Linked DNA regions of Homo sapiens. The protein of the gene in region 1 purifies or fractionates together with the protein of each later gene. This does not show direct contact. Each region holds a gene or a part of one and is shown on either strand. Other genes may lie near its edges.

Region 1 (16,740 bases):
GCAGCCCCTTCCCCAGATCCTGGGGATGGTTTGGTATGACTGGGGCACAAGCGGAGAGGGTCTTTGTGCCTTCCTAGGCTTCCTCAATCTGCCTATCAGCCTCCTGGGATAGAAAGGTGGGCACCCCCATTACCACATTTCCAATTTGAACTGTTCCTTCAGGCCCCTCCTGTCCAGCTCCTGTGCTCAGGAATGTGGCTGGAGTTGGGAAGGTTCTGACAGGGTTCTTGTCTTGGATACCTGAATGGGAAAATGGAAGTAGGGGTGGGGCTGACTCCTCCAGGAGAGCCGGGAGGGCTATGGATTTGGGAAACTAGGAGAAACTAAGAGGGTCTAGACATTGGACTGCTAGGGGCAAGAGGTGAGTAAAGAAAGAGAAGAGAGTTTTGGTCAAAAAAGGAACTAAGAGCTAAGAGAGAAGAGGGGAAAGAGGAGAGCAAGAATATGAATATGCAAAGCCCAGGCAGAGGGACCAGGGTGGAGAATACAGCAAACCTAGGAAGGAGCATGGGGTGAAGAACCCTAGTCACCCACACACTCACCTATCCGTTCATTCATTCATTGAGTGTGTATTCATTCAGGACACTTAGTGGGAACAGTGTGGCTTTCTCATCTGTAAACACACTATGTCCCAGTTGATCTGCAAGGACCATGAAGTCCTTCTGTTGCCCTCTGGGAGACTAGGCAGGAGGTGTGCTCCTGTCCTGGGGACCACTGATGAGGAGGGGTCTGAGTGTTTGGGTGGGGGCAGGAAGGAAATGGTGGTATTCTTCAGGCTGTGGCTACATGACAGCCTTAAGAACTGTCCACCACCCCCACCAGCCTCCCCCATTCTTCACGTCCTTGGATGTGTGTGGCTGCAGGGCGGCCCCTGCCCAGCTTCTTGTTGGTACCTCTGTTTTGCAGGAACAACTGCACTTCTGGTCAAGTTGTTTCCCTCAGATGCTCTGGTGAGTCATATCTTGGTCTAGGGGAGGTGGCGGTGAGAGGAAGGGGTGTTCCCCCTGCCTCAAGTGTGGAAGAGCCCTATGGTGAGACTCTGCTGGGCCTGGGGTAGGGGTCTTGCCCACCTGCCCATCTGCCTGCCAGGCCCCTTCTTGCAGTTGCTGTTCTGCCCCAGCCGAACCCTTTCTAAGCCTCCATCATGTCCCTCACCAGCCACAGATCTGGGCTGATGATCTCCTTCCTTCACTACCTGCCACTCTCTTCCTTGGCCTCTGACACCAACTCCATCTTTCTTCTGGAAAGCCCCAGAGGTGAAATTATTATTGGCTATTGAGTGACCTGTTAGCAGCTTCAGGAAACTAAGGGCAGGTGGTGAATCAGGTACCAAACGGGAAGCAATCTGTGGAGTTCCTTTCATTGGTCTTCCCGTTCATCTACCCGTCTCTTCATCTGTCCATTCACACATCCTTCCACACACCAACACTTCGACCTTTACTACAGGACAGGCATTCTGTTAGGTACTAGGGCTCCATTAGTGCAGATACAGTTTCTGCTTTCAGTGGGCCCACAGCTGGATGGGGCAGGCAGGGGTGAAATCAACACTTCTACCTTCCCATCCCCCATACTTAGGACCAGGAATAAGAAAGGAGAGCTGTCCACACTGGCTCTCTGGGGCTTAGCACTGGGCCACGCTTCCTGAGAGTTAGGACCATGCTGACACTCACCTCTCTCTCTCTTTCTATCTCACCCATCTCTGTTGGCAGAGTGTGGAGCGAGGCCCCTGGCTTCCCGGATAGTTGGTGGGCAGTCTGTGGCTCCTGGGCGCTGGCCGTGGCAGGCCAGCGTGGCCCTGGGCTTCCGGCACACGTGTGGGGGCTCTGTGCTAGCGCCACGCTGGGTGGTGACTGCTGCACATTGTATGCACAGGCAAGTCTCTGTGGCTGCTGAGGACAGAGAGCCTCAGTTGCCCTTTCTGTTCGGCTGTTGGTATGTCCTGTATCAAATGTTCGTGTCCAACTGTCTCCAGCTTTTTGCTCCAAAAGGGTAAGACTGGTGTTTGTGAAGTTCTCTCATTCAGTATCAAGAACAGATCTGCACAAATAACAGTAATAATATGAAGATTTGTTCTTTATATTCATCAGTTTTTTTTTTTTTTTTTTGAGACAGAGTCTCACTTTGTTGCCCAGGCTGGAGTGCAGTGGCGCAATCTTGGCTCACTGCAACCTTCACCTCCTGGGTTCAAGCGATTCTTGTGCCTCAGCTGGGCACCACTATGTTCAGCTAATTTTTTGTATTTTTAGTAGAGATGGGGTTTCGCCATGTTGGCCTGGCTGGTCTCGAACTCCTGACCTCAGGTGATCTGCCTGCCTCAGCCTCCCAAAGTGCTGGGATAACAGGCGTGAGCCACCGTGCCTGGCCTCATTAGCTTTTAAGTGTTAAAAATACTTTCACATTCACAGTATCCTGTGTTTCTTCAGGCTTATCTTTGGTTCAATCATTTTCCATGTAATTATTTGGTTAATATGTTTCTTCCCCTTTAGATGGGAAGCTCTGCAGGAGCAGGGACTCTCAGTCTTATTTACCACTAAATCTCTTTGTAGATTTATCCACTGCTGTGTCCCCAGGGTCTAGAACAGTCCCTGGAATATAGTAGGTGCTTAATAAATATGACTTGGAGGAATGAATGAATGATGAGTGAATGAGCTCTTTGATCTTCTCTTGGTGCCGGACAGGGCAGAGAGTGTAATCCCCATTTTACCGAGGCTGAGAGGGAGAAGTGCCTCTCCCATGATCACACACAGTAAGTTGAGAGATGGGACCAGGGGAAGTTTTTCCAACACAAGGCCCTCTATGTGTTTGTTATAAAACTTGGAGGGAAGTTATGCAGGAAAGAGGGAGTGGTGGTTGCAGATGACCCATAGTCTTCTCTATCCATCAGTCCTGCAGCATTTATTAAGCACCTACTGCATGCCCAGTGTCTTGCCGGCTGCTGGGGTGATACTAAGAGGCATAGTCTGTGGGGCCTGGGAGCTCACCGCCTGCTGACGGCCCCCCCACCAATGGCTGCTCTGGCCAGCTTCCTCCACCTGCTACCTTGCTTAGGAACACCTCTTCTGCCCCTTCCTTCCCCGCTCAGCATGGCCCCTGTGTGCAGTTTCAGGCTGGCCCGCCTGTCCAGCTGGCGGGTTCATGCGGGGCTGGTCAGCCACAGTGCCGTCAGGCCCCACCAAGGGGCTCTGGTGGAGAGGATTATCCCACACCCCCTCTACAGTGCCCAGAATCATGACTACGACGTCGCCCTCCTGAGGCTCCAGACCGCTCTCAACTTCTCAGGTGCGGCACTGGCTTGAGGGTGGGCAGGCTGGAGACTATGGCGAGAGAGGGCGGGGGCTGGGTGGGAGAGTGGTGAGCTGATTTCTGAAGTTTCCTCTGAACACTGTAAACCTTAAAACATTCTATTTATTTTGGGACTAGTGAATTTTGGCATCATCTGGTTCTGAAATTGTTATCAACTCTTGTACAGGCTCTTTTGGGAAAAGAGGTTCAGACCCATTTCATGGCTAGGGGGCAGGTGGGCTTTGCCTTGAGGTCTGAAGCAGCTGCCCCATCCACCAATAGGCTGCTCCACCCCTGTCCCCAGGCTAGCCTCGGGTCCTAGCCATTTGGTGCCATGTTACAGTTTATGAGATACATTTTTTCAAATATCTTCTCTTTCAGTCCTCGTAACAACCCTGATAGATAGTTGAAACAGGTAGATACAGACAAGAGCACTGCAGTGCAGGGAGGGAAGCAACTCTCTTCAAGGTCATGTGGCAAACAGTTCCTAAGCCTGATGCCAGGGCTCCTCCTGCTGCTGCACCTGCCCGTGAGCCCAGGCTGGAGCTATACCAGCAGCCACTCTCCCCGACACACACGTGCATGTGGGCATTCACCTACAAACACACACACACATGCACTCACACAGTCATGTGCACATAGACTCACACGTGAGCATTCACACATGCTCACATGTACGTGCTCACATGAACACACTTGCGCACACACACCACACACACAAACATGCACACTGTACACACACATATACGTTCACATATACTTAACACTCCTTCCTCCCGTCATTACCTGTAGCCTTAAGTTTCCCAAATAACAGTCATTGCCATACACATTTCACAAATTGTATCACATACGTGAACTATCGTTCAACAGATATTTCTAAGGCTGGGCATGGCGGCTCACGCCTGTAATCCCAGCACTTTGGGAGGGTGAGGTGGGCAGATCATTTGAGGTCAGGAGTTCAAGGCCAGCCTGGCCAACATGGTGAAACCCCGTCTCTACTAAAAATACAAAAATGAGCTGGGTGTGGTAGCTCATGCCTGTAGTCCCAGCTACTCGGGAGGCTGAGGCAGGAGGATCACTTGAACCTGGGAGGCAGAGATTGCAGTGAGCTGAGATCATGCCACTGCACTCCAGCCTGGGTGACAAAGCAAGACTCCGTCTCAAAAAAAAAAAAAGAAAAAAAAGGAAAAGAAAACTTTCTTAGTTGACCGAAATAAGTGTATTTAAAAGAAAAATACGACTATATTAGTATCTAAGTAGTAGATACTACATGAGTATCTACTGTAGTAGTATTTCTCTTTTAAATATACTTATTTAGTTATAATAAATAGTATATTTACTATATAGTATAGTAAGTAAATAGCATATTTACTATTTAAATATACAAAATAGGTATAGTAAATAGATAATAATTAGTATCTCTAGTTAGAGAACCTATATTACTTACCTAACTAGAGAACCTATGTTACTTATAATAAATAGATCCTAACCACAAAAATATGTAGCATGAAAAGAAATCAGTGTGGAAGTTCTAGGTAGCTGAGTCCGCTGCAGAAGTTGCTGCACCTGGGCGTGCTGTCTCCTGTTTGGTGGGAGGACGGCAGGCAGTAAGAAAGGCACAGACCAGCACCAAATGAAGTCTTTCTCTGTGATGCGGTTAGAGGGACTGAAAGAGAATTGAAAAGGACATGGCGTTCTCCCCAAGTGAATGCTTTACTCAATAGTGTGCCTATGTACTACCTAAAATCATGCATGGCTGCACCCATGGGATATGTCACGTTTTTGGAAACACTGTCCTCATTAGAAGTTGGGTGCCCATGGCCTGAAAGAATTTTCACCCCCACTCCATCCCCAGGTGTGGGGAGGGGGCAGCATGGGTCCTGTCCACCCATAGAGGGCGCCATGCACACTGCAGTTTGCATGCTGTCCTCTGTGACAGGGGACCCCAAAGATGGGACAGTGCCCCACTTGCATAGCCATCTAGGAGGCCTGGCTGGTGGAACCCAGGAGCCAGGACTGTTTGAGAAGGGGGCTGAGGAGGACTTGCCAGTCCTGGGTCCTTCGCCCAGGCTCTGCAGTGGGGGAAGCCAAGCCTGACTGGGGACCAGGACCATGTGCCTCTCTACAGACACTGTGGGCGCTGTGTGCCTGCCGGCCAAGGAACAGCATTTTCCGAAGGGCTCGCGGTGCTGGGTGTCTGGCTGGGGCCACACCCACCCTAGCCATAGTGAGTCAGCTCCCTGGGCCCTCGGTGCAGGGGCGGGTGTGGGAGGCATTCTTCCCCAGGGTGAGGCAAGGCCACATCCCCTGGCCACATGACAGTGCCAGCCCTGTTTTTCCCTGGCATCACCCTTGGTCAGGCCTAGGGTCTCCAGTCTCCCCTGCTTGGGCCTTTCTGGGGAGAACATCTACTGCAAGTTTTCCCTAAACCCAGACCCTTTTACTCCCCCTCCCCTTGTCCCAGGAGCGCCATGGTCTCACATTTGGTGTATGTGTGAGTCCTCCTGCTCTTCCCACTCCCAGCCCCCAAGTCCGATAGCCTACTGCTTCCTTGCTCAGCGTCCACAGCTCCCACCCTGGGCTCGCCTCTTTGGGTCTCCCTGTCTCTGGGACTTCGAATTACCTCCCCTCTTGCTGCTCTGCCTGCCTGGGCCTTGCTTTGTGCCCTGCAGTTTTTCTCGGTGTCTCTCATAGCTTACAGCTCGGATATGCTCCAGGACACGGTGGTGCCCTTGTTCAGCACTCAGCTCTGCAACAGCTCTTGCGTGTACAGCGGAGCCCTCACCCCCCGCATGCTTTGCGCTGGCTACCTGGACGGAAGGGCTGATGCATGCCAGGTGTGGCCTGTGGTGGCTGGGGTGAGGGTGGGAGTGGAGGTGGGGGTGGGAGGGCAGGGGGCCTGCTGTGACTTGGCCCCCTGCCCTGGTCTGAGCTTGTCAGTGGTGTGAGACAGCCTCTCTAGAAGGAGGGGCACCTAGGCAAGTCTGGAGCTCATGCTAAGGGTTTAAGGAGGGGTGAGGCCAGCAGATATCTCAGCTAGAAGCAGGCGGGGCCCAGTAAGGAGATTCCACTTGCCATAGTGGTCTGGTGCTCTCCATCAGGAAGAACTAACTGGCTGTTTCTCTGTGTCTCCATGCCTGGATCCCTTAGGGAGATAGCGGGGGCCCCCTAGTGTGCCCAGATGGGGACACATGGCGCCTAGTGGGGGTGGTCAGCTGGGGGCGTGGCTGCGCAGAGCCCAATCACCCAGGTGTCTACGCCAAGGTAGCTGAGTTTCTGGACTGGATCCATGACACTGCTCAGGTGAGTGTGGGGGCAGGAGTAGGGCAGGGAGATTTCTAAAGGACCTGCCCTCGAATGCAAGGAACCTTACCCCTTAGGCCCGGGCCCTGCTGGGGACTGGGGAGGGTGCTAGGACATATTCCCCAGAGTGAGTGGAGGAAGAAGTGAAGCTTAAACATGGAATCCATTGGATTTCTATCAGTTTAAGGATGAACTGGGTAAGAGTATGCCTGAGTTTGTATCCCAGATCTACCATTTCCTGTGTCGACCTTTGGCAAATTTCTAACTTTGTTAAACCTTAATTTCCTGATAATAACCATGATGGCTACTTATATGCTATTGTTATATGCTATTAAATAAGACCCGTACAATGCCTAGCACAGTGCTAGGCTTAGAGTGAGTGATCTGCAGTGTTTTTTGTTTTTTTTTGAGATGGAGTTTTGCTCTTGTTGCCCAGGCAGGAGTACAATGGTGCAATCTCAGCTCACTGCAACCTCTATCTCCCGGGTTCAAGCGATTTTCCTGCCTCAGCCTCCCAAGTAGCTGGGATTACAGGCATGCACCACCACGCCTGGCTAATTTTTTGTATTTAGTAGAGATGGGTTTCACCATGTTGGTCAGGCTGGTCTTGAACTCCTGAGCTCAGGTGATCCACCAGCCTTGGCCTCCCAAAGTGCTGGGATTACAGGCATGCACCACTGTGCCCGGCCTATCGTGTTATTTATGTGTATATCTGTTACCATCATTCATCCCTGGTCTCTAAGGCAGTTACTAGTGGCCACATTCCCTGCACTGTGGAGAGAGCTCAGCATTTAGCAGTTCGGGTTCTGCACCTACGTAAATTGTGTGACTCCGGGCAAGCCACTCTCCTTCATCTGTTCAATGGGAAGGCCAAGTGAGATAATGTGTATAAAAACACATTACTGGTCGGGTGGGGTGGCTCACGCCTGTAATCCTAGCACTTTGGGCGGCCGAGGTGGGCGGATCACGAGGTCAGGAGTTCGAGACCAGCCTGACCAACATGGTGAAACCCTGTCTATACTAAAAATACAAAAGTTAGCTGGGCATGGTGGCACGCACCCAGCTACTTGGGAGGTTGAGGCAGGAGAATCGCTTAAACCTGGGAGGCGGAGGTTCCAGTGAGCTGAGATCGTGCCACTGCACTCCAGGCTGGGCGACAGAGCAGGACTCTGTCTCAAAAACAAAACAAAACAAAAACATTATTTACCTAAAGTATTTTACAAATTTAGGGCATGATCATGAAAAGCATCTTCCTCTAAGGTTGGGCAGGGGTGGGGGTTGGTAGATAATACATTCGGAGTTTACAGGGAATGTATGTATTGATCTTCTCAAAGAAATCTTACAAAAAATCTTGAGCAGCAGATATTTTTAGCCTCATTTGATAGAAGTGAAAATCAAGGCCCTGCATGGTTAAGTGATTTACTAAAATAAAAGTCGCTTGGCTAGTGTAGAGCCATGCTGTGAATCAGTTCCTTTCCCTTTTGGTCTAGGACTCCCTCCTCTGAGTCCTGCTGTTTCCTCCAGTCTCACTGCACACCACTGCCTCATGCTTCCTGGGGCCTCCAGCAGCTCCACTAATGGAGGAGAGGCAGTAGCCTCCGACACAGAACGCATGGACCTCCTACTACTGTGTGTGAGGAACAGTCACTACCCACTGGCCAGCCACCCAGCCAACAGGTCTCTCCTCTTGGGCCCTGATTTCAGAGTCCTCTTTCTCACTAGAGACTCAATGACAGAAGAGAGGCTGGGACTTGGTTGGGCATGCTGTGGTTGCTGAGGGATGAGGGGGAGGAGAGAGGTAGGAGCTGGAGATGAAGAGGCTGCTAGAAGCAGCAGGAAGCCTGCCCTTCTGCCCTCTCCCCTCCCTGCCCCTGTGTGAGTCTTTTGGGAGGGTGCTGGGAGGTGCCCCCCGTCCCACCTTTTTCCTGTGCTCTAGGTGGGCTAAGTGCCTCCCTAGAGGACTCCATGGCTGAGAGGCTCCTGGGCAGATGGGGTCAAGGCTGGGCCAGCCCAGATGAAGCCTATGGGAGTCAGGACCCTCTCCACTCTCCCTCTCCACTCCCCTTCCTGTTCTCACCTGGCTGTGGCTGGCCCTGTGTGGGGTGGGTACACTGGAAAACAAGAAGGTTGGAGTTGGTCTAGGACATTGGTTTTAAATGACAGTTCTGTGAACTGGTCCAAGGAGTTCTGTTATTAAAGTGATATATGGTCTTGGTCCAGTTTTCTCTGTCTCCTCTCTCTCACTCGCACAAAGACAGACAGACAGACAGACAGACACAAACACATATTACAGGGTAGAATTACAATTTTCCTTCTATCTTCTATACATATTGAAGCTTTGGTGCTGACTCCTGTTCATCTACTTGAGAATTTTGGTTTGTGCTTATTTGTTTTGCCCAGGCTGGAGTGCAGTGGCACCATCTCTGCTCACTGCAGCCTCGATGTTGTGGGCTCAGTGCCTGCCACCTCAACCTCTCTGGTAGCTGGGACTACAGGTGCATGCCACCACACACGGCTAATTCTTCTTTTGTATCTTTTGTAGAAATGGGGTTTGTTTAATTCTTTAAATTTGTTAAATCTATATGTTGGCTGGGCGCGGTGGCTCACCCCTGTAATCCCAGCACTTTGGGAGGCCGAGGCCGGCAGATCACGAGGTCAGGAGATCGAGACCATCCTGGCTAACACAGTGAAACCCCATCTGTACTAAAAATACAAAAAATTAGCCAGGCATGGTGGCGGGCGCCTTGTAGTCCCAGCTACTCGGGAGGCTGAGGCAGGAGAATGGCGTGAACCTGGGAGGCAGAGATGGCAGTGAGCCGAGCCGCACTCCAGCCTGGGTGACAGAGTGAGACTCTGTCTCAAAAAAAAAAAAAAAAAAATCTACATGTCATGATCTGCAATGAAAAGCCTTAGCCATCCAGGTGCTCTGAGATCTTGAGTCTGAGAAGCACTTAAGTCAATGCTCTCTTGGGAAGGTCTGGTTTCCCTGCAAGGCCCATCTCTCCTTCTCTCTCCCCTTTTTTTTTTTTTTTTTTTTTTTTTGAGACGAAGTCTTGCTCTGTCACTCAGGCCGGAGTGCAGTGGTGCCATCTTGGCTCACTGCAACCTCTGCCTCCCGGGTTCAGGCAATTCTCCTGCCTCAGCCTCCCGAGCAGCGGGGATTACAGGCATACTGCAGCCACCATGCCTGGTTAATTTTTTGTATTTTTAGTACAGACGGGATTTCACCACGTTGGCCAGGCTGGTCTCGAACTCCTGACCTCAGGTGATCCATCTGCCTCGCCCTCCCAAAGTGCTGGTATTACAGGTGTGAGCCACCGCACCTGGACCCATCTCTCCTTCTTAGCTCTTGTTTTGGAACTGGGCCTTTGACTTGGCCTCTCTTTTTGAGTTTTATGCCCAGTTAGCATTTCCTTGGGTAAGCCTCTCCCCAACTCTCTCCTCTCTAGCAGTTAAAATGTGACTGGCATCTTCTTTCTAAAAACTGCAGTGAATTTTTTATGGTGCTTACCCAAGGAAATGCAACTAGTGTTTAGCAATAACAGAACTTTGTGAGTTTATCAGCATATTTTTTGAGGAGTTGTACAAATGATTACTCATTTCTAGAGGGTCTGCTCCCTTTACATGAAGTGCACTAGAAAATGAAGGTTTCAATTTACTGCCAGTTTATTAACCAGGGAAGTAGTTGCTGGGAGTCTGCTGTCAAACTGTAGAAGCAACGTGGGAGAAGTTCTGCTGAATGGCAAAATAGCCTCGCCCTGTGTCCCTGGAGGTCAGACCTTCAGCCTCTACCCTGGGATCAACATTTACTGCCCAGCTCCCTTAAGTCCCTGCCTCAGGAGGCACTGATGGGGTAGTAGATCCCCCTGGGCAGGGATAAGTTAACAGCAAATCCAGCAGCTGTGATCTTTTTTGTGTTTCTGATGTCAATCATAATCATTTGCATATTTAAAGGGAAGTTTAAAAAAATTACAGCCATCAAGGTCTTTCAATACTCAGTAACATTTGAATAGTGTTTTACAGTTTAGAAAACATGCCCATATGTGGGAGCTCACAAATCTATGTGGTGCAGATGTTATTATTATTGTCCTCATTTTCCAGATAAGAAAATTAATTCAGAGAGATTAAGTGACTCCCCCAAGACCACCCAGCTGGTAAGCACTAGAGCCAGGATGTCAACCGTGGGTCTTTTTACTCTAAATCCACATTACTGTCATGCACATGAATGAATGAGATGGTCCAGTATTGCACAGAAGAATAGAATTGGAAGGTACTTGCTCAGGTCACCTGGTGTAAGTCACCTGCTTATAGTAATGCCTTGGCACACCTACCTTTTTTTTTTTTTTTTTGAGACAATCTTACTCTGTCACCCAGGCTAGAGTGCAGTGGCATGATCTTGGTTCACTGCAATTTCTGCCTCCCAGGTTCAAGCGATTCTCATGCCTCAGCCTCCTGAGTGGCTGGGACTACAGGTGTGCACCACCAAGCCTGGCTAATTTTTTTTGTACTTTTTTTTTTAGTAGAGATGGGGTTTCGCCATGTTGGCCAGGCTGGTCTTGAATTCCTGGCCTCAAGCGATCCACCTGCCTTGGTCTCCCAAAGTGCTGGGATTACAGCCGTGAGCCACCACACCCGGCCTCCCACACCTACTTTTTTATAGATGAAGGAACCAAAACCCAGGAATTTAAGAGGCTCCTGCCAAAGACCCTTCTCAACAATATTCTTAGAAATTTTCAGTTCTCCCTGAGATTCACGGTCTTGACTAAAACTTACAAATGAATATCTCCTATAGGAGAGCTATAAAGGGTACCCTAATTAGAGAATTTGCTAATAAAGATTCCTTGCTTACCTATACAGAAGTTCTTGTTCTCTTTGGCCAGGCTACCAGTCAGATCTGCAGATGCAGAATCTCTCACTTTCCTTATTAGCATCTGCCAGTCCAGCTCTTTGGAAAGGGAAGGGAAGCGAGTGGCCTGGCCAGCTCCGTTCCCCTGAGCCTGCTCCTGGAATGAAGGGGTGGAGGTGGGGCCAGGAAGGTTGGGAAGATTCGGGTTCAGAAGGGCCTTAATGAGGACCAGCTGGGTTCCCAGCTATCTTAAGCTCTGTAGGGAATTCGGAGGTAGAAAAGCCGACTGTCTTATTGGAGAAATGAGACTTATTTGCAATAAATTACTAGTAGCCAGCCAGGCAGAGAGCTGAGTGGGGAGGTAGTAATTGCTCAGGGAGTTCCAAGAGCCTGTTGTTACAGAAGTCAGAGTAATTCTGTATGTGGGAAACCTCTGCCTTCCTCCGGTAGGATTCAGCATCCCACCTGCTTGGGCAGAGCTTTCGAGCCTCCTGAGATGTTCCAAGAGGGTCATTCCTGGCTGCCATGATGGGTGCAGATCCCTTCCCTCTTCTTCTGTGTGCTTGTGGGGTCTCAAGGATGCTAGAGGGTTCAGCATCCCTCTAGCATCAGATTCAGGTTCTCCCCTCCTGACACCTTCTGTGGAGTCGTGCTTTTCCTAAAAGGGTTTCTGGGAACAAGGGGCGGCCCTGCCATTCCTCAGGAACATTTCTCAGGCTCTTTCTTATATTTTCTTTTTGGAGGTGCTTGGCTCACCCACAATAGGACAAAACTGGAAATGCTATAAATGCTTAGAACTGGTTTGGTAGCTGTCAGATGTTTTCCCAAGTCCCTCTGATGCTTCTTCTCTCCTCTCTACTCTGCCGTCTCCTGGCCATGCTCTCAGGACCCTCTTGCTGCTCCACAGCTACTCAAAGGAAAACCTACCTTCACCTGCCCCCACTTTCCAGTCCAGCATCCTGGGCCTGAGCCCCATCTATACCTCCCTAGCAGACATGCTGCAGTGAACACTCAGGGTGTGCCGCACCCTCAGGACTCTGTTTCCTACTAAACTAATCAGAGCCAGGTGTTGTTAATGACTTTTTCAACTGTGTGTTAAATCCCTCCACCTCTAGGCAGGTTCGTAAGGAAGTAGGTAGGCAGCAGCTTCCTACTCCTGAGGGCTGAGGCTGGTCTCTCTCATACATTCAAGGCTGGGAAAGAGAGAGGCCAAGCAGGCCTGCCTGCTCGGAGTCTCCCCAGGGTGGAGCACTCCAGGGGGATCTGTGGAGGCTTTCACCTGGAGGTGGTGCTGGAGGGAACCAAGCTGGGGAATCAAACAGAATGGAGAGAGAAATCGTGGCTGCAGAGGCACAGAGTCCTTGCTACTTAGCCTCTCCCAGAACAGCACGTGGGCTCCAGGAAGGCAGAGACTTGCAAAAGGCTGGCATCATCTCGGAGCTTTCTCCCTTCCAAGGAACCTCTGGCTGTGACATCTGATAGTAGGAAACAATGGTTCTAGATGCAGAGTCCCATCACATCCCACGTGGGAATGTGCTGCTCGAGCAGGTGACTCAGTCTCCCTGGATTTTGGTCTCTCATCTGTCAACTTAGAAGTCTGGGCAAGATGGTCTCCACGGGATCTGCCTTGTTAGACCAGCTTTAACTCAAACTTCTTTTGCCTCTTGAGATGTCTGCCCACCACTTCCAGTTTGGATAACCTTTAGGAGCAGCCTGTTCCCTGGGACAGATCTACAGAAGTCAGCTTGCTATAGCTTCACAGCACTGCAAGGCTGCCGTCCCTGGGAGCCCTCTGGGTCCATGGGAGCAATAGAAACTGGGCAAAAGACTTGGAAGGCAGCTTTCGCCATGTTGCTGTACCTAGCATTTGTACCCTGGGCAAGGATTCAAGGAAAGGTTGAGCCCCTCAATCTGGCAGTTTTTTAGGTGCTCTCCAGCTCACTTTCTGATACCCCAGGCTCTGTCTGAAGCCTCATGGGCCCCAGCTCCGCAAAGGCAGCCAAAGGAATTTCCTCTCTACCACGAAGACCGTGAACGCTTTCCTTCTTTCTGTTTTCCTTGACAGCTCCTAAGCTGGCCATGAGGACCCACTCCTTCCTCCAGCCTTTCTTCATGCCTAGAATAGTGAGGAAAGTTGTGGGTTAGCAGAACCGCTAGAAAACATCTGGGATCCAAACCCTGCTCTGGACCCAGCCACATGCCAGGCTCAGGGAGGGAGGATCGGTTTTCCCACAGCCCCTCTGTTAGGGTGACCCATCTTCCAAGTTGGCCCAGGACTGTCCTGGTTTTAGCACTGAAAAGCTTATGTCCTGGGAAACTTTTCAGTCCTGGACAAACTAGGACAGTGGCTCACCCTAAGTCTAATGCATCTCTTCTGTATAAATGGAGTTCTGCAAAATTCAGTGCATCCCCGAATCCTACTATCCTTCCTCAGTTTGAGGAAGCACTCCCTGGTGCACAGAGTTGGAGGAGGAAGGTCCTGGGAATTCTCAAGGTCTGAACTGTTTTGCAAAGGCTGTGACACCAGCAGATGCTGCCTTGCCCTGGAGGCCCTTAAGGAGAGAGCCCCTCCTTCCTCAGGGCCTGCAGCTTCCCTGGTTGCCACTTCCCTGTGGTAGCTTCTGAGCCTGCAGCCAGGGCAGCCCTCCCTCACCTTACCTAATGTTTTGCGCAAACAGCCTGGCCCTCCTAGGCCCAGAACTTCTCTGGCAATTTGCGGGAGGCTAGGAAGGTGAGTCAGGTGTAGTGTTACTCCGGCAAGCCATGCATATCGATGTCCCAGTTTCCCCTGGTCACTCTGATTTCTGGTTCCTAGAGCCCGGTGCGGGCTCAGCATGTTATAGGTGCTGGCTTCGAGTGGTTGAGCCCACTCAGGAGGAGGAAGAGAAGGGCCTGCCGCCCGTACGGGAGCTGGATGGGCTTCTTCTCCTGGCCTCTGCCTTCCAAAGATCATCAGAGAGGAGCAAAGAAGAGACTGCCAGACTGCCAGAGCCCACAGGGATTTTGTGGGGTTTGTTTTTCCTCAGCAGTCCCTGCAGAGGTGAGGACATGAATAAAAGAATGAGGGAAGATTTATTGTTCTCACTTCTTGGCAGTGAGCCTGTATTTGTATAGTGGATCCAGGAGGGGGCTGGAACAGTTGAGAGGACTGCTGAGGCCCAGGCAGAAAGTCAGACCTTGCAAAGTTTTCTGGAGGGACCCAGGTGGGTGGTGGAGGGCGAAGGTGAGGCTGGGAGGAGTGGATTTAGACCAACTCCTCCCCAACCATCAGGGGCCAGAGTGTCCCCACCAGCCACCAGCCTTTTCCCACATGAGGTGGGACAGTGAACAAAGTTTTGGGCTAGCAGAACCATCGGCAGGCAGCTGGGGTCCAAGTATCTCCAAACCCAGCGGCACATGGTGGGCCCGACAGGGTGTGTTACCAGTGAGGATCCCAGAAGAAAGGGCTCCAGCTGAGCTCGTCTGTCACTCCTGCTCCTGATAATGGACGCAATCCAGAAATAACTTTTATCACGGCCTAGCCTGCCTGGGTGGGCCTGGGTGGTGGCTGAGACTTGGAACCTTGCAGCTGAAGATGACATTGCAGGTATGTTACCCCTGCATGTGTGTCTAAGGCTGTACAGCCCATGTTTTGGTGACATTGTACTGTCCCTGGGGCCACCAAAAGATGGGCCTCAATTTGCATGATGTCAATCCTAATGGGTCAAAACTGGTGGCGGAAGGTAGCAGGAGAGTGGAAAGCCTGGGGGCTTGGGAGGCTCTGAGAGATCACAGGATCCATGTGCATGCGTGTATGTTGATTTTGTGGGAAGCTTGAAGGGCCTGAAGGAAGTGGAGAAAGGGAGGGACTCGAACTTCTGACCTAAAATGATCCGCTTGCCTCGGCCTCCCAATGTGCTGGGATTATAGATGTGTCACTGTGCTCGACTGAAGGGAGGAAGTGTAAGGACGCCGAGGTAAGACTCTGCAGAGCTGCTCCCCTAATTGTGAGAGGGACAGATCTGATTCTAGCCACTTTCCATGTGCAGGGCCCCACCATGTTTAGCTGCCTCCTTCAATGGACAATGTCAGGGAAATTCTCTTGCAAATGACCATGCTTCATCCTCAGCAAAAATGGCTCATCCTTCGTGAGTGACCATGTTAAGCCTATCCCCTCATACACATGCTTACATACCACCTGGACACTTTACCTGGCAGGCAGGATCATAAATCCGACAAAGAATTCATTGCAATGGTCCTATACAAGCAATAGAGACCTATAGTAGTAGGTGTGTGTGTAGGGGTCATTTCTCCACAGAGTCTTCTGACGTTTGGGTCATCCTCTCTCAAGACTCCTCCAGGCTCACATTTATGGGGTCCAGACAAGAGTGTGGATAGAGGCCCGTATACCACATGTCTAAATAGTTCAGAGTAATACATCACCCTAACACACTGTTAAACTAAAAACGTTCTATCTTCCTACCATAAAAAATAGACCATATAAAAATATGGAAGGTCAGATCCAAATTTTGAATCCTTGAATTTTTGGATTCTGTCCTGGAGCTTGGTTGATGAAGAGAGTAGGCTTCTGGCCACCTTTTCTCCCCACGCCCTCAGCTAAGGGCTGTCTGCACAGCCGTGCAGACACTCCATCCTGCTTAGGGGTATGCCCAGCAGGGGTACCTGTGCAGCCTCTGGAAGCGGGCTCAGGGACCTTGGGAATTTCAGGATCTAGAGAGAGAGAGACGCAGGTCTGGGTAGGCACAGGACGTCAACATTGCAAATTCTCCCCTTACGGTGGGTCTGGTCAAAGAAGGGCCAGGACAGCAGGGCTGGGACTAGGGTGAGGCAGGTGACGTGCCTCAGTGCAAAATTGAAGGAGGCATCACTCTCAGGGTCATACAAAGGCAGGCTGGCTCCTGCCTCACTCTGGTCTTGGCCCTGCGGGGGGCGGGCCCTCTAAAGTGAGCAGCCCGGAGCAGGAAGGGCTTCTCCCATCTGGTCTCCATGGGTATTGATGGTTACTCCTAACCGTTGGAGTGAGACAAAAAGGCAAGATGACAGAAACAGACCTCTCTCCTGTGAGTCCCTACTTCCCTAAAGCACTGTAAAGCATCCCCTGATTACATTTCAGGGAGCTCCACGTCCGCATCAGCCCAGCCACCATGGTGGTCCCTGGGCTCATTCTCTGCGGAAAAGTACCCAGAGTGATTCATTATCATCCCCACTCACATAGCCTCCTAGAAATTAATGTCGATAAACACCAAAAAAAACTCTAGTGTACAAATACACCGTACTCCAGAACTCTCGCAGGGCAGACTTCAGTGAAA
Region 2 (16,740 bases), on another chromosome or scaffold:
TGTGGTGGCACGCACCTGTAGTCCCAGCTACTCGGGAGGCACTGAGGCAGAATTGCTTGAACCTGGGAGGCGGAGGTTGCAGTGAGCCGAGATCACGCCACTGCACTCCTGCCTGGGTGACAGAGTGAAACTCTGTCTCAAAAAAAAAAAAAATGTCAGACAGATCCGGATTTGAATTCCAGAGCTGGTACTTATTTATTTACTGTTTGACCTTGGGCAGATTAATTGAATCCCTGCAAATGAGAATAATGACACCTGTCTCATAGGATTCAAGATAGGTAGTGAATTAAAATATATTAAGATAATTTATGTAAAGTGCTTAGCAGAGTGCATGGCATAAGTGAATGCTCTTATTATGGATGTTGAGTTGATAAATTGCAATTTGCTCTCATTTTAAGTAATGGGCTTTTAAAATTTTGCTTTTATCCCCATTGGTTATATTCAAGTACATTTCTTTTTGAAATGAACATGACCATCAAACCTTAAAGAGCTGGTCTCTTACCAGCAATATTTTGTTCTCATTTGATTTGACGTTAGTTACCACAAAGAGAGATATAGTTATCTCAACATAAGAGAGGATGTTGGACTGGGTTTATATGTATATTTTCTTCTTTCCTGAAACCCTACTTCACAAGACATTAAAGGAGTTTAAATAACAAAAAGATAAAACCTACAAAGAAAAAGAGAGTGAAGAGGAGAGAGAACCGTGGATCAGATATAATAAAAAAATAGATGGGATGGTAGAGTGGGAACCTATTTAGCTGAGTGAGCCACTGCCTAACTGCGTACAGAGGGGGATACTGATAAGCAAGCCAGCCAGCCAGCATTCTTCACCTGCCTTCATCTTAGAATGCCTGCAGCTAGATTCGAACTCTTCTGTCTGGACTTCAGCAGGTCCTTTTCTAGAGAGCCTACTGCCATCACAGAAGGGACCTGCTGATAACCTGCAATTGTGGTTTCCCCAAGCAAAAAGTGAGCTCACCATCTGATCACTGTTCATTGAATTTACAGTTGAACATGACCCGTGCACACTAAGCCTCGTTTGGATGGCCTGTGTTCATTAGACAACAGAAAAGCTAAAAGGAATGAACTGAATAAAAGAACTCGGAAGAAATAGATGATACAGGCAATAGGAAAGAACTAAAAAACAAAACAGAAAACATGAATAGGTCTCAGATGATAAGACACTGGATTCACTAAACAAGAACAACATGCCTACAAAGGAAGCGAGAGAGAGAAGGAACAAATCGATAACAAGAAACGATGCTTGGAAATAATATGATAGCTGAAATAAAGTAGTGCATGAGAAGGCTGGAAGATGTAGTTCATTCTTCCAGCAAGTAAAAGAAAAATATAAAGAAATGTAAAGTAGAAGGGAAAATTAAGAAAGTTAGATGATCAACCCAGGAAGTACAAAATCTGCCTAAAGTTACAAAAAAGAGGACAAAAGGCATTGGAGGATAATAAATTATCAAAGTAATACTACAGGAAAATTTCCCTAGTAAATTATCAAAGTAATACTAGGGGAAAATTTCCCTGAACTACAAAACAAAACAAAACAAAAAACAGTAGTCTCTTGGTTGAATGAAAAAGAACCCATACTACTGAGTGAAATTTCAGACTATCTGGACAAGTCACTTAGCTATTTAATCGGTTATACCACGAGATACTTATGGAGGGTATTAGAACAATTAATGATAGTTTCATTAAAAGGTAAGCAAACAACTTTGGGAGGCCAAGGCAGGTGGATCACGAGGTGAGTTCAAGACCAGCCTGGCCAAGACGGTGAAACCCCATTTCTACTAAAATTAGCTGGGTGCGGTTGCAGGTGCCTGTAATCCCAGCTACTTGGGAGGCTGAGGCAGGAGAATCACCTGAACCCGGGTGGCAGAGGTTGCAGGGAGGCGAGATCGTGCCACTGCACTCCAGCCTGGGCAACAGAGTGAGACTGTCTCAAAAAAAAAAAAAAAAAAAAAAGTTAAGCAGACATTGTGTGTAAAATTTGTGACAGAATTTTTTTTTTTAAGCTAAGCAAGCCAGAAGCAATTCCAGTGCAAAGTGTGGTGTAAGAAAAATTAATTATAGTACAGTACTTGGCTCAATTGTAAACACTCTTCACATAGAGTTAATATAAACACTTGATTTTTGTATTTCAATTTTATATAGTAAATGTTTGGGGGGAATTATATGACTTGCTTTGAAACACAGTTGTTCACACAGTGATGTGAAGGAAACAACAGTGGACAAGGAAGACTCCCAGATCTGATTTTAGTTAGCTGTGGGACTTTGGCAAGTAATATCTTCCTAGGTACATTGTACATTGTATACATACAGTGTATAGAAACAATCCCAGATGGACCCATAGTGACAGAAATTTCTAGTGAAAAGTTTTTAACACCAATGATATTAACAATATCATTAATACTTGAAAGCTAGTTCAGATTAGTTTCTCCCCTCCTTTTTTTTTTTTTTTTTAACCTATTTTGTGCTTCAGTTTTCATACTTGGAATATGTGACTTAAACCAGATACTAATTTTAAATAGAAGGAGAAAAAAACTGTTTTCACTTCAGGTTTCTCACTGAGAGATGAGAACAACTAGTTCCTTCAATTTTGCTTTTAGCAATTTGGCCCTTGAAAAGGTCACTATAGATTTGCTTAGAGATTCTTTTTAAAAACATTTGGGGGTCTCCTGCAAACTTCTCATCTGTCAAAAGCTGCAAAATACATACTGAGTAGGAAAAGGTTAGTTACCTACTAAACCCTAAAGGACAGATACCGACAGCACCACACTTAAGATTGAATTGTAAATGCATTACCAGCAACTCACCTATTTATTTATGAATATTTCCAACACAAAATATCTTTCCTTTCTGTACTTTGACTTAGATAATTCTCTGCTTATAATACTAGCTGGTTTTGGTTTCTCTGTGGTGATCTATGGTGTGACTCTCATCTCCTCTGGAGAGAGCTCCTTATATAAGCTCTGTCACCTGAGGGCCACTGCTGGCATTCCAGTGAGTGAGCTAAGCTCTAGAAGCCAGACAAGTAGAATTATTTTTCCCACCGTAGAAGATACAGTACAAGTTCATGTATAGAAGAAGTTTATTATTTTCTCAAGTTTTGACCTAAGTATGAGAATTTGGAATCCAAAGTAGGCTATTCAGTTATTGAAGAGCAGATATTTTTCCAGTCTCTGCAGTATCTAAAACCTTGTTTCTCTTTCATTTGTCCCTTAACATATTAGAGATTTTTTTGTCATATTCTTAGAAACTAGACTTCCACAGGCAGTTTTATCAACTCAGATTACCACCCATGGGAAGGCTGAATTCAGCTTCTTTAACATGAATATCCAGGACCTGGACACTGTTAAGACTCCCATCTTGGCCAGGCATGGTGGCTCATGCCTGTAATCTCAGCACTTTAGGAGGCCAAGGTGGGTGGATTAGTTGAGGTCAGGAGTTCGAGACCAGCCTGACCAACATGGTGAAACCCATCTTTACTAAAAATACAAAAAATTAGATGGGCATGGTGGTGCATGCCTGTAATTCCAGCTACTCGGGAGGCTGAGACACGAGAATCGCTTGAACCCAGGAGGCGGAGGTTGCAGTGAGCTGAGATTGCACCACCGCACTCCAACCTGGGTGACGAATGACTCTTGTCTCAAAAAAAAAAACAAAAAACCTTTATTCAATAGAGAGTACAAAGGTGAACAAATGAGGACTTCTGAGCAGTGGCTGAGACAAGAAGTGAGAGTTTGCCAGAGGATCCCAGATTTGAAGGGAAGGTAAAATGTCATATACTGCTATAGAAGGTACTAGCAAATGAGTTCATGGCTTTAAAGTTCTTGGAACTGTGCCTGGTATCTTATAAGTACTCTTTATTACCCACTTTTACTTTTTAAATATTCAGCTGTTAATCTTTATTTTTTAATTTACCTTTGAGGTTCAGGGGGTACATGTGTAGGTTTATTATATAGGTAAACTGAGTCACAGATTACCTGCTGTACAGATAATTTCATCACCCAGGTAATAGGCATAGTAACCATTAGGTCGTTTTTTGATCCTCTCCCTCCTCCCACCCTCTACTCTCAGATGGGTCCTGGTATCTGTTGTTGCCTTCTTTGTGACCATGTGTACTCAATGTAGCTCCCACTTACAAGTGAGAACATGTGGTATTATGTTCCTGTGTTAGTCTGCTTAGGATGATGGCCTCCAGCTCCATCCATGTTGCTCCAAAGGACATGGTCTAGTTCTTTTTTATGGTTGTGTGGTATTCCATGGTGTATATGTACCACGTTTTCTTTATCCAGTCTACCACTGATGGGCATTTAGGTTGATGCCATGACTTTGCGATTGTGAATAGTGCTGTGATGAACATATGTGTACATGTGTCTTTATGGTAGAATGATTTATATTACTTTGGGTATATACTCAGTAAGGGGGTCCTGGGTCAAATGATACTTCTGTTTTTCACTTCTTTGAGAAATTGCCATACTGCTTTCCACAATGGCTAAACTAATTTACATTCCCACCAGCAGTATATAAGTGTTCCCTTTTCTCTGCAGCCTCACCAGCATCTATTATTATTTGACTATATGTAATTTTTTTTTTTTTTTTTGAGACAGAGTCTCTCTCTGTTGCCCAGGCTGGAGTGATGTGATCTTGACTCACTGCAACGTCTGCCTCCCGGGTTCAAACGATTATTGTGTCTCAGCCTCTCGAGTAGTTGGGACTACAGGGGTGTGCCACCACACCTGGCTAATTTTTTGTATTTTTGTAGAGATGGTGTTTCGCCATGTTGCCCAGGCTGGTCTCGAACTCCTGAGCTCAGGCAGTCCGCCCGCCTCAGCCTCCCAAAGTGCTAGGCTTACAGGCGTGAGCCACCACGCCTGGCCTGACTTTTTAATAATAGTCATTCAGCTGTTAATCTTTAGAGCCAGTGTTTTCTATTAACCATTAAGCCATCAATATCACTTGGAATCTTGTTAGATATGCAAATTGAAGCTCCACTCCAAACTTGCTCAATCTGAAAATCTTCTGTGACTAGAGCTCAGAAACCTGTATTTTAACAAACCTTCCAGGGATTCTGATGTACACTGTAGCTTGAGAACCACTGCTTTACAGGTTCTACCCAATATAAAAACTAAAACAGTGTTACCAGTTAAAACCTCTCTAGAGCACACAGCATTTCTATGAAAGAGAGAAAATTAAATCAGCAGATAAGTATTTTTTATGCAGAAATGTAGACTTCATTAGAATTGGCATTACATTGTTTACATCTTCCAAATATAATAGGTTCTTGAGAAATATTTGGCGATAATATTAGATAAGACAAACAATTTTTAGAGAACTGAGCTGACATTGTTTCTTTAAAAAAGCCTTTTATTCATTCAACAGTCATTTATTGTCTACTGTGTGTCAGGCACAGCTACTGTTACAGAACTCTTAGTAGTGTAGGAAAATCAAACTGTAAGCAAGTAAGTTACAATACAATGTTTTAAGTACTATAATTGAATATGAGCCATGTGCTGTGAATGTTCAGAACAGGAAATATCCAACAGCCTCAACTCGGAATGTTTATGTTTGAGCTGGGTCTCAAAGAATGAGTAGGGAGAGACTTGGGGCAAGGGTGTTTCATATAGTTTGTTGACATTACTACCATAAAAGGTATTTTCATTTTTTGTGTCAATGAATATCCACTAGGAAGATCATTTTCATCAAAAAATGTCAAATCCATTTTTTATATTATTACAACTTTTGTTAGCCTTTTTTTCCATACTGTGAACTAGATTGATTAACTTGGAAGCAGCTCACGCACCCAGGGAATCACTGTCACTGGCATCATAGAAAAAAAATACCCACTTGTTTTAGAAATGCCTGGTTCCTAATTACACTGTCAATATTTCAAAAAACTAATGTAGCTTATTTCAGAGGTTCCCAAACTTCTCTTAACGGTTCTGTAATTTTTTTCATGGTGCCTCTAGGCCAAGAGAAATACCGTACAGACTTGTTTATTAACTAATTTGGTACAAACAACTTAGTAAAGATTTATGTCCCAACAACTTATTTGCCTTTAAAAAATAAGATATAAATTGAAAAATATTTTTATTTAATTCTTAAATAACCAGTTACATACTTATGGTGTGTTTGTGCCTGTTGGGATTATACAACTTCTCAAACTGTGGAATCAGACTGAACACCACCACCTTCTTTTCTAGTTCCATACTGACTTTTGCATAGTGCTTGGGTTTTTTTCACAGTAACCACTGAAAACTCAGCTTCACAAAGATATGCTGTTAAAAAGAATGTATGTTCTAATGTTGAAGTTACAAATTATCTGAAGCTGGTAGTTCACTCAGTGTCAAACACACATTGAGCCTCACTGTGTTTCCCTCAAATAGAAAACCCTGGCACCCCTGGGTTTTGCTGGGATGCCCCAAGACACAATTTGGAAATAGTGGGCTTGTTAGATTTAATTCATAGATTTAGGGATTTAGTTACACAACTCAACTGACTTTCTCTAGGTCATAAAGTTGAGTCAGCATAGCTTTCAACCTTTCATTTACTTTGGCCACATTTGCATAAATGATTGCTATTTTATACCCTGAAAGTTCCAGCTTTTTTCACTGTCCCAGATGGCAAGTATTTTCATTTTCTTTATTCACTCTGTATCTGCTTCTAGAACTACCTCAGGCTGTACCATCTTTTACTCTTACTGTAGGCCTTCTGCTAACCTGATGGGACCTGGCCTTCATTTGCTTCTCAGTGACATGTGTTTGCACACTAAGCTGCCCAGAGAATAGTCTTTGGGAAAGTTTTAACTTTTAAGTGATGATGTAATTACTGTTTTCTAGAAGCTACAGTTGATCCATATGCCAGAAATGTGAGGGAGGTAGATATAGTATGGTTATATACATATTGTTTAGATAAGGATGCAAATAAGGTTCTCACAGTAGCAAATCCTTTGAAATTAACCTGCTTCTCGCCTCCTTGGATATACTCCAAATTGTTTAGTTCATTATCTTTAATAATTATGATGTAATTATGTAAAAAGTTATGGGAAGAGACATTTTGCCTAATGTCCCCTCCACACTAACATAGCAGTTCATTTGGGTCTCTAGTCCTTCACCTTATGCAGAATAAAAGTTAATATTTTAAGGATGCAAGGATTATTCAGATGGTTGACGGTCTTAACAAAGTTTCCTATAAAGAATTTGTTTCCAGGAAACACGGTGACTCTGCTAACGACAACTGTTAATACGTATCAGAGCAGAGTGCACCATTTCCTGTTTTTCTTTGCGGAGGTCTGACTCTGGAATTCCCCTTGTTTGCCCATGACTATTCTTTTTTTTTCTTTTGAAACAGAGTCTCACTCTGGCACCCAGGCTGGAGTGCAGTGGTGTGATCTCGGCTCACTGCAACCTCTCCCCGCCAACCCCCCACCCCAGGTTCAAGTGATTCTTCTGCCTCAGCCTCTCAAGTAGCTGGGATTACAGGTGCCTGCCACCATGCCCAGCTAATTTTTTTTTCTTAAAGAAAATATTTAATTTTCCATAGTTATTGGGGCTACAGGTGGTGTTTGGTTACATGAGTAAGTTCTTTAGTGGTGATTTGTGGATTTTGGTGTACTCATCACCCGAGCAGTGTACACTGCACCATATTTGTAGTCTTTTATAAAACCCTTGCCCCCCTCCCACTCTTCCAGAGCCCCAAGTCCATTTGATCATTCTTATGGCCTAATTTTTGTATTTTTAGTGGAGACAGGGTTTCGCCATGTTGGCCAGGCTGGTCTTGAACTCCTGACCTCAAGTGATCCACCTGCCTCAGCCTCCTGAAGTGCTGGGATTATAGGCATGAGTCACCATGCCCAGCCACCCGTGACTATTATACAGTACCCCAAACAAGTGTGCCATTCTTTAAATGTCCACATTGTGCCTTAAAATACTGCATTTTTATAGTTTAGAATATTTATTTATATTTAAATCCAGGTTTTTGATAGAGTGTTGTAGGAAAGAGTGTAAAGAACACTTCCACCTGTGTCTAGATCCACCTTTCCTGCCTTCTCAGGAACCTTGTAAGGTTGACAATCCATTTTCTTTTTCCTTCTTTTTCTGTACCTCTTTTACTGGATCTTTCCCATTAGAAATTGAGCATAATGAATTCTCTGCCATCTTACAGGGGAAAAATTCAATCTGTTCTCATCTCCTTTTCTCCTTTCAGCCACTGACCTGTCTTCTTCCTGTCCAGAAGGCCAGACTTTTCTCCAGAGTTGTCTCTGTTCTCTTTCTCCATTTTCCACTTCTTAGACCCACCTCAGTCCCCTGCAGCGTGTCTTCTCCTCCTATTACTCCACTGACATAGCACTCACTAAGGTGCCCATTGACTTGATATTGCTGAATCCATTGCACGTATTTGTCTTTAATTGACCTCTCACCACCTTTCAGCTCTGCTCCCTCTTGACACTTGTACACACTGCTGATTTTCCTACTGACTTTCAGGCTGTTTCTTTTTGGCCTTCTTTGATGGCTTCTTCTCTGCCCAACCACAGAAATTTAGTTTGTCTAGGAAATCTCATTAACTTGGCTTTGTTAATGCTGGTGATTCTCAGTCTCTTATCTCCAGTTTGGATTCTCTCAGAACCCAGTGAATTGCACACTCTCTGCTGAAATCTGAAGTCTGTGCATATTTCTTAACTCCTCCCTCTCACTGTTACCAAATCCAGCCTGCAACCAAGTGCTGTTTTTTTTTGTTTTTTTTTTTGTTTTTTTGAGAGAAGTCTCGCTCTTGTCCCCCAGGCCTGAGTGCAATGGCTCGATCTCGGCTCACTGCAACCTCCGCCTCCTGGGTTCAAACGATTCTCCTGTCTCTGCCTCCCAAGTAGCTGGGATTAAGGCACCTGCTACCACGCCTGGCTAATTTTTGTATTTTTGGTAGAGACGGGGTTTCACTGTGTTGGCCAGGCTGGTCTCGAACTCTTGACCTCAGGTGATCCACCCGCCTCGGCCTCCCAAAGTGCTGGGATTACAGGCGTGAGCCACCACATCCGGCCCAAATGCTGTTGATTTTATCCACTGACTACTTCTTGAATCTATCCACTTCTATCTGTGTTATTAGTTGAATCCACATAATCCCTTTTCACCAACATTAATAACTTATTTTGACCTCTTCTAACATGTTTTCCACCTATAGCTATTGTGGAATAGTCTTCTCAAGCTATTTAATCATGTTATTCCTCTGCTTTAAAACACTTTCAATTATTTCCCATTGTTCTTGGGAGGATCACACACTTCAGTCCTTTACAAACTCTATGTGATCTGGTTCTTGCTTATCTTACTATTTTCATCTTAGGTGTTTACCTTTACTATGCTCGCACAACACAGTTGCTCCTTTCAGTTTCTGGACAGCTGAGTTCCCTCAGCCTTGGGGAGCGAAGGACTGAAAGCTTCTTTCATATCTCACAAACTGTTAGATTAGATGCCATGAAGAAACCTTCCAATACTAAGGTGTGACTCCCAGCTCAGTATAGTTCAAGCTGAAAAATACTCACTATTATTTTCACATTCATATATATTAGTTATCTAATAACACAGTATGATAGAAGTAAGCTGAAGTCTTCCCATCCTTTGCTTTTCAGTGTCAGAGTAGCTTCTTGGGAACTAGTTTTGTTATCAGCTTTTGAATATTCTCAGTAATCATGTTTGCTGAATTATTGTTTGTGAGTATGTGTTAATACCCTTCTTTCACAAGCATATCTATTCATTCTTTTTGGGTGAGATGGGTGGTGGCCTGAGCACACTATGGTTTCTGTTCTCCCCCAACACAGTCCTGCAGTAACTCAACAGAATAAATCACTTAATATGGAGGTATAGACCAAGTGGAGCCTTTTGGCAAGCTCTAAACACACCCTTCTGGAGGAAATGATGCAGAATGAGAACTGTTAGGAGTTGCTTCTGCAGGTTCACAGGACAAGGGTTGATCAAGACTCCTCCTAGTGGTCTGGAAGTAGGTACCAGGAAGTATTCTCTGGTACCACCTCCTCCCCTGCTTGAGAGAGCCAAGTGGCTCTCTCTGCATATCAGAAGCAGTTATCTTGACATGTTTACTGCAAACGCCTGGGGAAGAGTCTGGTGTCCTGCAGATGCCACTGTCCTGTGGAACTGTGACAAGAACCTAGAAGCTTCCCTCTCTACCTGTCAGTTAAGTGGCTCACTGGGGAAGAAATCCCAATAATTTGTCCTGCCCACATGCTGAGAAAATTCGTATCCTGTGATGGTAAAGATTACATTTCTGGACCTGCCCAAATAGCTTCCTAATAAGGAAATTTAGTGGAAATGTAATAATATATTATTAAGAAGAGAAAAAGGCACAAAACTGTTAACATCTTTTTTCCCTACTTTATTCCTAAAAAAGATAAGTTAGCATTGTTTAAGGCTAATTCATAGAATTATGCTTTATCATTCCAAACAAAAATAGTATGAAGAGAAGTATGTTGAATGGGGTGGTTGGAAATAGACAAACTGAGTCTGTGAAAAAGATGGGGAACAGAGGAAAAGACCAGTGCATTGCTGGCATGCAGCACTCCAGATCAAAGGATGGTTGTGGGTGTCAAGTCTGCCATTAGGGGCAGGGAGTCTTTGTATGAGGCACCTCTAAGATCATCAGAGGGAGCAGTATGCGAGAAAAAGATAGCAGGAAACCAGTGCATTGTGCTAGGAAATAGAAAAATTAAAACACATAGACAAAAGCCTCTTTTGACTTTATGATACCATTTTAACCTGCAAGTTTTATGATTCTGTGGAACAGGGCCCCAAAAGACAGACAGTTTCTTACCAACTTTCAAAAAAAGGCTTGAAGTAAAACTAAAGTTGTTCAAATAAAGAAATGAGAGTTCTTTGTTCCCTAGTGTTATAGACTTATAATTTATATAGTTAAGTGTTTTTAGGGAAAAGAGTGAAAAACTATAATAATACAACTTTTTCAGAGATTAAAAAATGTTGCAATGACATGTCATAACAGCCTCTGAAAAATAACCATAATGGAAAAAATGAAATTATGTGGCTACTACTGAAAAAATCTAGAGCTGGGGTCAGCAGACTACTACTTTTACAGGCTAAATCTAGCCTGTCACCTGTTTTTGTAAATAAATTTTTACCATAACACAGCTATACTCATTTAATTTCATGTGCTCTGCAGCTGCTTTCATGCTACAATAGCAGAGTTGAGTCAAAGCTACAGTGGAGATTGTATTTGGCCTGCAAGGTTATAATATTTACTATCTAGCTTGGACCTCTGAAGAGGATAAAGCAGAGTTACTTTTCAATGCAGTGAAATTATAAAGAGAAATAAAGGATGAAAATATAAGAAACTTGGAAGATTATAGACACACACATGTTCAAATGTCCACATAGGCAGGAACTCCAGAAATAGCAAAATGAACACATGGAGCAATTATCAAGGAACTAACAGAATAAAACTTTTCTAAGATACAGAAAACCTGTGTTCAGATAACCGTGTGCCACGCAGAATTACTGGAAGGAAAACCCAACAAACTTGGAGATGGTCTAATGTCATTGCTGAATTCTAAGGATGAATAACATAAATATTTCAAAGGAAAAGCGTCAGGGTTTTTTGTGGTTGTTGTTTCTATCTATGACAATATAAACGAGAGGACAGTAAAACAATGTATATGGACTTCTAAAATATATGCATGGGCTCGCCACTTTTGTGGTTTTGTAGAAAGTCATGTTTTCACCCTGAGGAGCTGTCATATGGGACTCTCGTGATAAAATTTTAGGGTTTATCAGGATCATGCCAGCGTTTCAGTAGATAAGGACATAAAAGTGTTATGTTCAAAGGCAGCTAATCCAGCAAGTTTGTAACTCTGCTTGGTTTTGAGGGAAGCTGCAATTTCAGGAGAAGTATACTATTGACAGTAAACTGGGATAAGCAGAGCCCCATAGTAGGACACTAACCCAACGTGGCCAGTGGTCTCTCCCAATAACATTATCATATCTAAGGGATCATGGAAAACAGGACAGATCTAAGATAATCTTCATATCTGGAAAACTCTTAGATAATCAGTGAAACACAGCAGTACAGTCAGGAAATATCTCTAAGGGGTAGATGAGCATATTGGTCAGAACAGGGACACCAGCTGGTGGCTAAAGTTACTGGAAAATGGGGCTCAGCACCCCATGAGAAGTGCTTTTCAAAAATTAGGAAGAGTCAGCCAGGCGTAGTGGTGCGTGCCTGTAATCCCAGCTACTTGGGAGCTGAGGTGCGAGGATTGCTTGAGCCCAGTTAAAAGACCAGCCTGGGTAACATAGCAAGACTCCATCTCAAAAAAAAAAAAAAAAAAAAAATTAAGAAGAGTGAGTAAGACCCAGCCTAGTTAGTCAACAGGTTTAGTTCCCAGCTAGAACAGACCAGAGAAGAGTGAATGGACTAGGACCAAATCTGTCACCCTCTCACCCTCCCACCTCCACCCCCTCCAGCTGAAATGACAGATTCATTTTAGCATAGAAAGGTAATTGGGTATAATCTGAATAATAACCATCAAAATATAATACATCTGTTAATGATGAAAGCCAGAAAGTAATGTTTAAAATCAGACAGTGTATTCAAACCACTGTGTTCTTTGCCAACAATAATAGTGACTGAGGGTAATTTTACATTTGTCTCGTTTTTTAAAAAGAATAAAACTTAAGCAGTTATTAAATATGTGGATGACCAAAGCTAGACCAAATAATCTATTAAGCTCTAAATAATAACCTGTTATTTTGCTTTACTAATCATTTTTGTGCATATATTTGTCTTGGGGATTTCATCATAAGAAGTAATTGTGGCAGTCTAAGAGCTAGGCATTTTTGTGTTCTTGGCAAATTTATTAAACAGTCATAGTATAAAAATCCATCAGAATAAGTTGCTCATAAGATCACTTTCTCAACACATTTGTTCCCCATATTTTAGAAAAGGCGACGGCGGATTGACAGAAGTATGATTGGAGAGCCCACAAACTTTGTGCATACAGCTCATGTTGGATCAGGAGACCTGTTCAGTGGAATGAATTCAGTAAGTATGTTGGTGGGACATGCAGGTAGGGCATTGGGGCATAGTCATATGAAACCTGTGTGACAGGCACAAGCATTTTTAATAGCATTATGCTAAATGAATTTGTGTACAGTGAATGTAAATACATAATATGAGCATAGAAGAGAGAAGCAAACTACTGATGAAAAATTAATCTCTTTGAATTTCCTGGATTAGGTATTTGTTTCTGTTTCTTGTACGCAACTCTTCATAGCTGCCTTTGTCCCGAATAAATACTTTGAAACTTGAAAGGATTTGAGTTCAGAATGGAGGTTAATATCCTATTGATTCTCTTGCTCCCACCAAAGAGACTTGGATATCAGCCTTTTTAATAATAATCTCTTTTTGTTCTTTTAAGTTCAGTTAGTTGCCTTTTGCACACATTTTTATTGCTTTACTTTATAAACCAGTGGTCTCCAACCTTTTTGGCACCAGGGACCAGTTTCGTGGAAGACAGTTTTTCCATGGGGGAAATGGTTTTGGGATGAAACTGTTCTACCACAGTTCATCAGGCATTAGATTCTCATAAGGAGTCCACAACCAAATCCTTGCATGTGCAGTTCGCAATAGGGTTTGTGCTCCTATGAGAATCCCATGCCATCACTGATGTGACAGGAGGCAGAGCTCAGGCGGTGATGCTCACTTGCAGCTGCTCACCTCCTGTTGTGCAGCCCGGTTCCTAACAGGCCACTTCTGGTTTTGGGACCCCTGTTATAAACTATTCATCTTTACCTGGTAATATTAGAATGTTGGTGATTTATTTACTCTAAGTTCTCATGCACTAAGCATAGGATTAGAATTTTCACATATCCCTTTAGGGCAAGGCAGTAAAAATTTGTCACATTTGCCAGTAGGATGTGAAGAACCAGAAATAAGATTTATTCGCTGTCTTTTAATAGAGGTTTCAGTGAGTTTCAGAATAGGCTTTAGATCTACTCAGCTGACCTTTTAGTCCTTAATTTTTGTTGAAGAGAAAACCAGAATGCATTATAATAGAAGCAGCACCAAATGCGGGTTCTTATCAGAGTTGTTCCTCACATTTGCCTTAAAGCAGGCCACTGAGTTTCAACAGACTGACTCTTTTCCCCATGCCTAAAGTAAACAAGTATAAATGATCCCTAAAGTGTTCAAAACCAGAAAGGATTTTATAAACATAAAATTATGATCCACTGTATACCAACTTACTAGACAGCATTAACAAAAGACTTAACAGGGACTTTAAAAATAGGTAGATGGGTATCCTGGATACAGCAACGACGTTTGTCACTGCAGTTACTAGGTAAGCAAAGGAATGACATTTGAACCTTGCCGGAAAGGAAACAGCTTGTTTGTTTTAAATCCGTAGGAAAAGTACTTTGTTTCACTTGACTGCTTTGTGGAAATGCAAGAGGTATCATGTTGCTGTCAAAACAGTCAGTAGTTTTGTTTCCTGCATCAACATAGAGTGAAAAGACTAAATGAGGCCCTATTACTTTTATTAATATGGTTACTATAATAAAGAGAATGGGTAGTTTCAAATTTGTTATATATGATGAATTTTAATTTCTCTCTCATCAACAGATGTTGTCTCTGCCACCTCAGATTTTTAAAAAATCCAACTATAAGGCCAGGCACGGTGGCTCACGCCTGTAATCCCAGTACTTTGGGAGGCTGAGGCAGGTGGATCATCTGAGCTCAGGATTTCAAGACCAGCCTGAGCAATGTAGTGAAACCCTGTCTCTACCAAAAATACAAAAAAATTAGCTGAGTGAAGTAATGTGCACCTGTGGTTCCAGCTGTTTGGGAGGCTGAGCGGGGAGGACTGCTTGAACCTGGGAGGGGGGAGGTTGCAGTGAGCTGAGATCATGCCTCTGAACTCCAGCCTGGGTGACAGAGTGAAACCCCATCTTAAAAAAATAAATCCAACCGTATAGGAGGAATTAAATTTTAGTTCGTGGCATTTAAAATCTTATGTACATTTCGGAATTTCCTTTAAGATTCCTCCTTGAATGAAAAACCTGTCATTGGCTTACTATTTTTTTGCTTCTCATAGTTTAGGTAGAACTTTAGGACTGTACTTTGCAGGGCTTGCACACCTGCCTCTTAATCTTAGATGCAGGATTGAGATGGGACTTTAGCTGTGGTAGAGTTTCTACCTTGCTGTCTCCAGGCAGCCTTCTCTGCTACTGAAGTGGACTTTTTATGAAGTATTTCAGCCCTTTAGAGCTAAATGTGCTTCCCAAATGTGTTCTATAGTTATTTCGTATTTGAGTTTGCTATCTCTAAAGCAATATTCAGCATCCATCCCACTGTCACAGAGCACTGTGTTCTTGCTGCTAGGAATGGTGTTGTTCAATTAGTAACTTTTTTTTTTGAGACAGAGTCTCGCTCTGTCACCCAGGCTGGAGTGCAGTGGTGCAATCTCAGCTCACTGCAACGTCTGCCTCCTAGGTTCAAGCAATCCTGTCTCAGCCTCCTGAGTAACTGGGATTACAGGCTCCTGCCACCATGCCTGGCTAATTTTTTGTATTTTTAGTAGAGCGGGGTTTCACCATGTTGGCGAGGCTGGTCTCAAACTCCGGACCTCCGGTGATCCACCCACCTCGGCCTCCCAAAGTGTTGGGATTACAGCCATGAGCCACCACGCCTGGCTGAGTAACTTTTCTTGAAAGTATCATTGATAGTACTGATTTGATGAGCCTGACTCTGTGAGAAAAATTATGTTCTCCTATGCAATGCAATAATAAATAAGAAGAAACCATAAATAGACATGCTGTTTATTCAAATAAAAGAACTGAGCAGCTAGTATTAGGAATGTGGCTTGACGCATATGAAACAGGCTTGCCTAAACTATATTATTGAATGGTTAGATGACTTGTAATTTCTTTTTTCTTCTAAATATATTATTCTTCTACCTTTACTTAGTGTAAAAGACTCTTTTCTACTACCCTCTTTCCAGAAAAGATTTCCGTTACCCGTTCAGTAATACAACCTTGCGTTAAAATATTGTATATTCACAGTCACAATAATACATTGTCTCAACACTGAAAGATTACTTATTAAAGTTACTTAATAAAGGTTACTTAAGATAAACCAAATCTTTTAAATTGAAGAATTGACTTTTGGAGAAAAATACTTTTTTTTTCTTAGAATCTGCTTGGCATTATTGAATGCACAATGTAAAAACAAACAAAGATTTTGTGTTTGGTTGGTTTTGGGCTTTTTTGATGCAGAGTCTCATTCTGTTGCCCAGGCTGGAGTGCTTACTGCAGCCTTGACCGCCTAGGCTCAATCGATCATCCTGCCTCAGCCTCCCCCAGTAGCTGGGACTACAGGCCTGCACCACCATGCCCAGCTAGTTTTTGTATTTTTTTTGTAGAGATGGGGTTTCGCTATGTTTTCCAGGCTGGTCTCAAACTCCTGGGCTCAAGTTATCTGCCTACTTCGAACTCCCATAGTGTTGGGATTACAGCTGTGAGCCACTGTACCTGGTCATAAAGATGTTTTTTAAGCCAGGCCTAAAATATCTATAAAAGCTAACATGCCATGTTAAGTGGAAAATTACTTGGTATCAGGTTTGTGCCACATAACTTAATGTTAGTTACCATAAAGGGGAAGATGACGAATTTGAACTGGTATCATATGACAGGCCCTAGCCTCTTCACACTGCAT

Evidence for each region.
Region 2: the proteins of TMPRSS5 (region 1) and CDC42SE2 purify together in Homo sapiens (affinity purification with mass spectrometry; 2 studies listed by BioGRID and IntAct, with this or other methods). This does not show direct contact.

Annotation. Positions count from the first base shown.
Region 1 is NC_000011.10:113,679,610-113,696,349, reverse strand, and holds the end of TMPRSS5 (transmembrane protease serine 5), read left to right. Parts: intron 1-906; coding exon 907-950; intron 951-1,709; coding exon 1,710-1,872; intron 1,873-3,100; coding exon 3,101-3,279; intron 3,280-5,410; coding exon 5,411-5,509; intron 5,510-5,976; coding exon 5,977-6,119; intron 6,120-6,432; coding exon 6,433-6,585; intron 6,586-8,075; coding exon 8,076-8,090; 3' UTR 8,091-8,800; downstream 8,801-16,740. UniProt on the Homo sapiens protein: May play a role in hearing.
Region 2 is NC_000005.10:131,372,574-131,389,313, forward strand, and holds part of CDC42SE2 (CDC42 small effector protein 2), read left to right. Parts: intron 1-12,969; coding exon 12,970-13,071; intron 13,072-16,740. UniProt on the Homo sapiens protein: Probably involved in the organization of the actin cytoskeleton by acting downstream of CDC42, inducing actin filament assembly. Alters CDC42-induced cell shape changes.